2 linked regions of the Homo sapiens genome follow. The protein of the gene in region 2 purifies or fractionates together with the protein of the main gene of each other region. This does not show direct contact. Each region holds a gene or a part of one and is shown on either strand. Other genes may lie near its edges.

Region 1 (4,257 bases), on a different chromosome or scaffold from region 2:
AGCAGAAACTGAATTAATATGCTTCCTTGCAAATGGGAAATCACATAGCAGTTACCCCATGGCATTGTGACTAATGGCATCAGGGCAAAAATATGTTACTTTACGATTTACCTGTTAGCAGGTTCTTGTTTCATAAAGGTAGAAAATAAATACAGACAACATCTACTGAGCTAGTTGATTGGTGATGCTTCTACCTTAATATCTTTCCTACTGATTTATAATTCCTTTATTTTCACATATACTAAAACTTTTTAAATGCATGTTAATTCAGATAAAAAGGCATTTTGTATTCCACATAGAATAGTGTTAAGAATTGTGAAGTACACTGAGCTGTCACGGCAAAGTAGTATTTAATGTGCTTATAGGGGTGTGTGTGTGTGTGTGTGTGTGTGTGTGTGTGTGTGTGTGTGTGTGTGTGTGTGTGTGTGTGTGTGTGTGTGTGTGTGTGTGTGTGTGTGTGTGTGTAGGGGGGGACTGTATAATTCACATTTTTAAAATAAAAGTGCTTAAAAATCAAAAGCATTGGGTAAAGAAATAATAGTATCTAAGTATTTGTTCACTTTATAACCCAGAAAATAAAACACCACGTTTATTCCAGAGAAGTTTGTATTTGGGCCTTAAGCTTTTGAAAATAAAGTTTAGAGACATAGCATATGAATACCACTGTAATACACATGAAATATTCTATCAGACCCTAAAAATTAACATAAACTTTTAACTTTCTCATAGTCAACAAAATAGTGGCTGGTTGCCAATTTTATTAGATAAGTTGGTTACAGCATTTTAATTATCATTTTACGTCTATCTAGGTGTAGCTGAAATTCAAAATGCACATCAAAGTAAAACTATATCACAACTCAATGCCATACTAAATGTACTGGCCTCTGCAATAGAATTCTAGTCAGACTTCATTTTTTACTCCCTTCTTATGACCCAAGTGGCTTTAACAGGAATGCAGGACTTAGTGCTGATCATCACACAACATACCACTTTCTTTTTAGAACCTCTACAAAATTTTGAGGGGAGATGGTGGCATTAGCCCTGTGGAACAGATCTTGATCACCTCAATAACACTGGCCCATTATCTGTCCAGCAGAACCCATTGTGAAATAGTACAAGGTGCACAGCCCTTCACTGATTACAGGCAAGTGTTACAGTAGCCTAGCCATAAGGAAGGGGAGTTACATCATAGTACAAAATACAGTATAAAAGCGTTATTTAACATTCCACACTGAAGATTACTCTGATGCCTTCAAACAGTCGTTTGGATGTTAGCCACTTAAACAAATACATCACTAAGGTAAACAATATAAACATACCAAAACCCTGTATGGTTAAATACAATTTCCATGGTACAAAAATCAAAGCCTGGAGATGTTTTTACAGATTGCTTTTTACACAATGTCTTAAATTGCCAAATATTTACAACATTAAAGAGGAAATACATTGTGATGCAGAGTAAAATTCTGAAATGATTATTATAAAACCTCAATCTATCTACGTGAGGCACTCCTGAAGCAAGTGGCATTAGCCATGAGGTCCTTTGGTACAAGGCCCATTGCTTGAAGAACCACAGTAGCTGCTGTGGCTTTAGCATGCTTCTTATTAGGGCTGGCAAAGCTGGGCTGGTAAGCGCTTCCATTTATCAATACCTATTCAAGAAAAACATACAATTGGGTCTGGTAAGGGCTCCATTTCTCAATACCTATTCAAGAAAAACATACAATAAGAACAGCATCAAACTTTAATATCTATTAGCTTTGTATTTTTTCACTAAATGCTAGAAAAATAATTTACAAAAATATAAAACCCATACTATGTAAGTCAAATTATAATCTCAACCCGAAGAACCAAATCATTTGGGAAAGGGACTGCAAATTAGAGCAGGTCTCCAAATTGAGAAAAAGACTGACAAAAGTATTAAATTAATTCCCCACATTCAACTAGAAAATAACAATTGTATACTATATTTTACCCTTTTCCAATTTTTTAAAAAATAGGACATTGACAAGTCGTATTAAAGCACCCTTCAGTGTTTAAAAACCCCACCACTTAACTACAAATACAAACCCCCCACCCATGAACAGAATCTTAATCCTGTGATCATGTTTACCCCTCACCCTCTAAGTCATCACATTAATAAATATATATAATTAATGCAGAAATTCATATTTACCCTAAAGAGAAAATGTTTGCGATGATCAGGGCCACTATCATGGACCAATAGAAATTCAGGTGGTTGCCACCTTCTTTTATTACAGATCTCCATCAAAGCAGACACAGGATGTTTGCCTGCAGGGGGGAGAAATACCCAGTTTTAAATTATTTCCACCAACTTCTGCAACAAATAATGAATTCAAGGTGGGATTAGGGTAAGAGGAAATTCAAAAACGTGCTCTCACCTGACAGATCTTTCATTGCAGCAGAGAAGTTCCCAGACCTCTTTTGTGCTCTTTCTCCTACTGCAACAAGACCTTTAAAAAAAAATTGTTCACTAAATAAATTTCAAAGCACCACTTTAAAACAAAGATCCCTCTGTAGGAGTCTGAACCTCAAAATGTATGCCTTCAAATAAAATCAGCAGATTCCTAGTACACTCGATTTCTCTATCAATCTTCTCTTTCTTCTCTTTTACTGTTTTTCAGCATATAAATTTATATTTAATATTCATAGATCTTGGTATGAGAAATTGTAATAAATACCAAATGTAAACAGAAAACAAAAAGTTAAGTATGGCCAGGCACAGTGGCTCATGCCTGTAATCCCAGCACTTTGGGAGGCCGAGGCGGGTGGATCTCCTGAGGTCAAGAGTCTGAGACCAGCCTGGCCAACATGGTGAAACCCCGTCTCTACTAAAGAAACAAAAATTAGCCGGGCGTGGTGGTGCGCGCCTGTAATCCCAGCTACTCGGGAGGCTGGGGCAGGAGAATCGCTTGAACCTGGAAGCGAAGGTTGCAGTGAGTAAAGATCGTGCCACTGACAGCCTGGGCAACGAGCAAAACTCCATCTCAAAAAAAGAAAAAAAATAGCTTATTGCCAAGTGATTTCTGCAGATTTACTGTCTCTTAAAAAAATAAGCTTCAGTTAAGACTCTTCCAAAAAAGGTTAGGATTTTAAGCCACCAAAAAGGTGAAAACGGTTGTCTCCAAATAAAATAGGTCCCTTTTTTCCTAGCAAACTCTCCTCTCCCTTCCTAACAAATGGGAGATGTTCTCAAAATATGAACATAACCTTTCTACATAACCTCTCTCTCCATAGACTTATTACAAAGGGGATTAGCTACATTGCTAAACCCAAACACTGCTTTCCCAATTCATATACAGGTTGAGTATTCCTTATCCAAAATGCTTGGGACCAGAAGTGTGTCGGTTGATTCCAGGTTTTCAAATATTTGCATTGTATTTAGCGGTCAAGCATCCCAAATCTGAAGAGGCTGAAATCCAAAATGCACCAATGAGTATTTCCTTTGAGCATCATATCAGTATTCAAAAAGTTTTCTGTTTTAAAGCATTTCAGGTTTCCAGATGTGGGATGCTCATCCTGTATGTTACAGGAAATTTTTCAACCTTTGCTAAATAATTCCATGCTAATATAAGCTTTTCTAAACCTATCCTGGGAAATCTGTGGTTCTCTGAGAGCTTACAGTCAGGCCATGTCCCACAATTCCAAGGACAATGCTTCCTGAAATTGTACAATACTTAACATCAAAGTATTTGGTGCAGAGCTAGTTCATTTCCAAATTCATTAAGACAGTTTAACTATTGAAGTTAGCTTCAACTTACTGTTTGATTACAAAGATGAAAATAAATCCCAGTTTTACATTTGTCAGCTTTTATAAATGAGGTTTAAACAAGCTATACAAAAATCATACTGAGCTGGCAAGCCTCTCATGATTCCACTTACATTATTCCAAGGGAAGAAGTTATTTAAAAGACGCCAATTAGCTATCATCTGTGGGAATGATTAAATACTTAGCAACTACATACAAGCTACATAGAAGACACAGTGCTGCCCTGCCCAGGTATCTGAAGGTAAAAGGAAAATACAGTCAATGCTAACAGTTCCAAGATGCCTTAACACAAGGCAACAGGAAGAAGTAACATTATTGTCAGCAGCTGGTCTACTATACTCTAACCCAACTTAACTACTGAGCTTGGAAGAAAAAAGCAAACAGGGTTTATGAAATCTAGACTAAACCAGTATTGTAATAGGAAATAATGAAGATGTGCTAAAATATCTAACAAAAAATAAACTAAA
Region 2 (5,576 bases):
ATGCACATACCCTTTGACTCAGCAATTTCCGAGGATGATCTAGGTAAGCATGTTCACCTATCAATGATGTACTGTACTGTACATCACCTGTCAATGACGTACAGTACAGTACATTCACTGCAACACTAATTTTTTTTTTTTGAGACAGAGTCTTTCTGTCGCCCAGGCTGGAGTACAGTGGCGCAATCTCAGCTCACTGCAACCTCTATTCAATCAGGTTCAAGTGATTCTCCCGCCTCAGACTCCCAAGTAGCTGGGGGATTACAGGCGCGAGCCACCGCACCAAGCAAAAAAATTTTAAAAATTAAAAATAAAAACTGACTGATTACTCATCAGTGCTAGGCTAGTTTAGAAGGAATGAGTCTGGAGCAGCACTTCCAATCAGTGACAATCAATTTGGCAATCCCAATCACAGAAAACAAGTGGGGGGATGCACCAAAGCTTATTTTGAAATGCATCTATCAGTAACGGGTGCCAAGTTGCACATGACCTAAGAGGTATTGGCCCAAACAGCCCTTTTCCCCACAAGGCTGGAATTTGTTTAAAACCATTTTTGCCCCTACCCCTCCTCCACACCTTTTTATCCTTTCTATACTCATTTCTAGGACGCTACTAGCTGCCCATCCTAAAGCTACAGGATTAATGCCTCCTACTTTTGGCTGAGAGCTCCCACTTCCAAAAATTAAGTATCAGGATTATTTGTTCAATCTCTGCAGATTTATTGTTGAGTAAACTTATCTTTAAATAATACAGAACAATTAAAGCTAACCAAGTGCAACAGATAAATAAGCCTGCCAGTTATACACATAACTTTATACCAACCATAATTCAGCCAGTCAAAATTCCAAAAACAATCCAAATAACTTCCAACATACTAGCGGTCAAACTACCGAATAAACTTGATGCAGACCAGTATTCCCAAGTTGCAATAGTATCCAATGACTTTGCTGAAATGCATAAAATGGACAAGCCTAGGTATCTGCGCAACCAGCAGGTTTTTTTTTTTTTGTACCAAGGCTAGAGAATGCCTGGTAAAAGCTTGACCAGAAAACTCTCAAAAGTAACTGTTACTGCCCTACTATTCTTAAGATACTTAAAATTTGAATAAAGAACCTACTGGCTATGTAACATTCTAAGGTCTACCAGATGCTACCAAAAAATATTAGCTACATGGAGTGTTGCTAAATATAGCTGAGATTTACAAAACCACTTTAGTCTCATTGACATTTCTGATTGACATCTTTAATTACTTTGCACCAGCCTGGCAAAATAGAAGAATGTTGTGGTTGGGAACTGCAAAACCTAGCTTGAAGATTAACAACAGGTCTTTGCTCAGAATAAGACAATCCATTTGAATAGATGAAGAGTATCTGGGCTGGAAAATTTTGCAAAGCTGGTTTACATGAAGGTGTTTTGTCCCAATTTCAGACAATTCCTCAAACATGCATTTTTTGGTATAAAACTGGTTAACTAATGTAGAAAGCAAAGAAACAAGACCATTGAGAGTAGAACTCCCCATATCTTGGGGAGTCCTAATTAACACTATGCCACCTAGTAGCCTGAAAGCTGCAATTAGTATAAAGATCATCCAGAAATGTTTCTATTTCTCATACATTTAATCAGTTTCGTTTAGTTCCTGTCATGCTCATTTAGACACATCAGTGGTCCTACTTGCTTCACCACTGATCATACAATACCTACTAACACCAACTTCAAACGGATTAGCTAACTTAAGGATCTGTCATGATGCATTCAGGCTGTATCATAAGGGACTCAGGTCATCTTACCCAGAGCTACAAGGGTAAGATGGAATTTTCAAAGTCCCTTAAGATCCTGGCCAAGTTTTATGCATAGAATAGTGATGTTCAAGACTTAACCAACACCTTTCAATTCTGAATGTAGGTATGTATGAATAAGGTTAACAATTATAATGTCTGACTCTCAAATATATCAAATTAAGAAGTGTTAATATTGAACACAAATCAAAAATCTAGTTAGAAACATTTTATTTAAATGTGCCAAATAAAAACCCACATTTTCAGACCATATGATGTTAATACATTCAACAAAATTTATATTATCTTACTGCTGTGAATTTACATAGTAATCCAGATCCATTTTGATTAGATGGTTGAATTATCTTTCCTAGGTTACACTTTACAGACATCACAAATCCCTTATAATAATGTAAACAAAATAACTTTTCCCTAAAGGGTGAACTTGAGAGCTTCAGTCCATTCTTTCAGGACTTGCACTTCTGCGAGGACTTCCTGATGGGGAACGACTAAAAAGAAAAACATTAGGTTTGGATCCAATTAGTGTCAATTGAAACTCTCATGTACATGTACTAACTTTCAATAACTTCAAAGGTGGCCTAAGGTACTAATTTCCTATAGCAAAGACCTAAAAATGACATGAAACTTACATATATTCATCTTTTGTCCCTGGCTTAAGATTAGGCTACCCTGGCCAGGCACGGTGGCTCACGCCTGTAACCCCAGCACTTTGGGAGAGGCCGAGGCAGGTGATCACCTAAGATCAGGAGTTTAAGACCAACCTCGCCAACATGGTGAAACTCCGTCTCTACTAGAAATACAAAAAATTAGCCAGGCTTGGCGGTGGGTGCCTGTAATCCCAACTGCTCAAGAGGCTGAGACAGGATAATTGCTTGAACCCGGGAATCGGAGGCTGCAGTGAGCCAAGATTGAGCCACTGCACTCCAAGCCTGGGGACAGAGCGAAAACTCCATCCCAGAAAAAAAAAAAAATTAGGCTATCCTCCTTGTCAAAATTGCAAGGTCAACCTGCAGTTAAATATGACAACTATTTGAAGTCTTCTGGTCATTAAGAAGCACTAGATAAATATGACAACTATTTGAAGTTTTCTGGTCATAAAGAAGCACTAGGCAGGTAACTATTTCCAAGACTTTTCTCCACACTTTGTATCTATTGTACATGTGGGGAAAAGGCATCTATCTTACCAAAATTTCTACCAAGTACTCACAGGACCAATCACATCTTAATAATCACCCTAACATTTTATGACTAAGTATTTCCAGCAAAAGTATAAACTAATGTTACTGAATCAAAAAAAAAAAGTATTTCAGAAACTTAGCATAGTATTTTAATCTATATAGCACCAATTCTCCAAAGAGCTCAAAGACTGCAAAGCAGTAAGCAAACAAATTCTGCAGAGGCCACACTTGACAGGCAAGATTTGGCAACAAAACATTTAGCTTACCTTCTTTTTGGAGATGGAGATCTGGACTTTGATCGGCTGTCAAAACATGAGAAATTCTATTAAAGAAAGAGTACTAACCAATCCCTTTCTTGTAGTCACCAATACCGTAAAACCCCCAAATGTCCTAAGCTTAAAATGTCAGACTGCACTTAAACTGAAAAACATCCTACCAGTTGTTGCTAACAAAAGCCAATCTTTCAACAACTGTTTTTCAAAAAATGACTCAATTACTACATCATGATTAATCTTTTACATTCTGCTTTAAGCACATCGATTTCAGGATGCTTCTCCATGCACCTATCAGTTCTAACAAGGGCCTCTTTAATATAATCCCCCAAGTCATAAGCTTCTTTCTCACTATAGTTTTACATTCCCTTGTTCAGGGAAAGTCAGCCAGTAATAAATAGGACATACACAAATAAGGTACTGTGTTCCCACTAAAACCTAAGTTTAGAGTTAACACTTAAAATTTCAACAATTAAAAACACTTTGAACTCTTTGGATATTGGTGCCATATAACTAGAAAAGCATAATCAAATTTTTACCCTACCTGCTTCTTGGTCGTGAAATAGACCTGGATCTTGATCTTGACCTCGACGGGGATCTTAATAAAAAAAGTGAAAAACACAATTATATCAATCAGTCCAAAGGAATTTCCTTAACTACTCAACACTGTATTAGGTTGGTCAGGCATAAAGAAGCTAAAACTAAACAAGATGCAACACTTGCCTTATTCTGTCTAACACACTGTCAAACAAAGTGTTACCAGACATAAGGAACCCCCATTTCAATTACTTGTTTCTATCACTCAATTGGTTAGTTTCTGTACAGGTATAACATTCTCAAACACTGTGTAATATCCAAGGGAAATACATGGTTTTCATTTGATGAGACTGGTATGAAGGAAGCAAAACTAACCTCACTTAAGGCACAGATCCCTCAGCTGGGCACTGTGGTACACAATGGCAGTCCCAGCTACTCAGGAGGCTAAGGCAGGATGAAAATAACCAGACCCCTGAACTGAGACTAATTCAGGTGATAAGGCCAGACGAAAAGAAAGCCGCCCCCCATTTGTAAGGCTTTATTCCTGGATCAAGTTATGTTTGAGAGCCATCAATCTGTCAGACAAACCAAATCAGACTGACATATCTATCTTTTAAATTTATCTAAAGAGATGGTTCATAGCTTTCTCAAATAGACCACAAGATTCAGAATTCCTGCATTTAAAGGTTTTGTGCTATTAAACAGCAATTTAACTCCCAGTAGCATTCCGTACCACGGTTTTATCGTTGGTACAGATAACAATATTGTTAATTACATGTTGCAATACTTATTTTACAATTTTTTCCATTCTATCTCCTTTTAAGGCCTTCTACAAATAGTAAAGCTCTGGTTCTTTAGTTTTTTCAGGTCTGAAACGGTCTAAAAAAAAAAATCCACATTCATTTCTGTGTACACACTACTGCCCTAGTCAACTTTCCAGTGTCTCAAATCAACCCCATCATTCCAAAAATGAGAAATGTTTCTACTTGCTTCTGATCTCTTTTCCTGGTGCTAATAGGCCTTTTTGTCGGGAAAATCAATTACCATCTTTCAGAGCTAGTATCATCCAATCTGAAGCCAGAAAAGTTTATAGCAACATGCCTACCCAGAGTGTTGAGTAGAACTGTATTGCTTGGGACCCTTGTCTACCACACGGCCTAACAAGCCTTAAAATCTCTAGTAGCCCTTTTCTTCATCTGTAAAACTAGGTTAATATTTATGTTACAAGTTACACATAAATTCCAAACTTTTACATCTCAAATATTCCCTGAAGCAATCCATTTGAATTATGTCCTTAAGACACTCTACTGATAAGATGTGAACAATCCAAACACAAGTAAGGAAAAAAAGTGTTACATACTGGAAATACCTCGATCCTTTTATAGAACCAGACCTAGATCTTCTGAGTGAAGCTGATCTTGATCTACGAAGAGAGATAGATCTTGATCGTCGAGGAGATGCTGACCTTGACCTAAAATAAAGAACTTTAAGTCCATCTCCACAGTTTTTTTTTTTTTTGGCCTGTTAAGACTTCAACTGGGGAACGGTGCAGTGGCTCATGCCCATAATCCCAGCACTGCGGGAGGATCGTTTGAGCCCAGGAGCTTGAGACCAGCCTGGGAAACAGTGCAAGACCATTTCTACAAAAATAAAAATTAGCTGGGTATGGTGGCAGTGCCTACAGTCCCAGCTACTCGGGAGGCTGAGGTAGGAGAACTGCTTAAACCCAAGAGATCATCAAGGCAGCAGTGAGTCGTGGTTATGCCCCTGTACTCCAGCCCGGGTGACAGAGC

Evidence for each region.
Region 1: the proteins of SRSF7 (region 2) and SON purify together in Homo sapiens (affinity purification with mass spectrometry; 2 studies listed by BioGRID and IntAct, with this or other methods). This does not show direct contact.

Annotation. Positions count from the first base shown.
Region 1 is NC_000021.9:33,573,813-33,578,069, reverse strand, and holds the end of SON (protein SON), read right to left. Parts: intron 2,475-4,257; coding exon 2,403-2,474; intron 2,293-2,402; coding exon 2,177-2,292; intron 1,706-2,176; coding exon 1,646-1,705; 3' UTR 589-1,645; downstream 1-588. UniProt on the Homo sapiens protein: RNA-binding protein that acts as a mRNA splicing cofactor by promoting efficient splicing of transcripts that possess weak splice sites.
Region 2 is NC_000002.12:38,742,904-38,748,479, forward strand, and holds the end of SRSF7 (serine/arginine-rich splicing factor 7), read right to left. Parts: intron 5,255-5,576; coding exon 5,144-5,254; intron 3,845-5,143; coding exon 3,791-3,844; intron 3,277-3,790; coding exon 3,241-3,276; intron 2,285-3,240; coding exon 2,230-2,284; 3' UTR 696-2,229; downstream 1-695.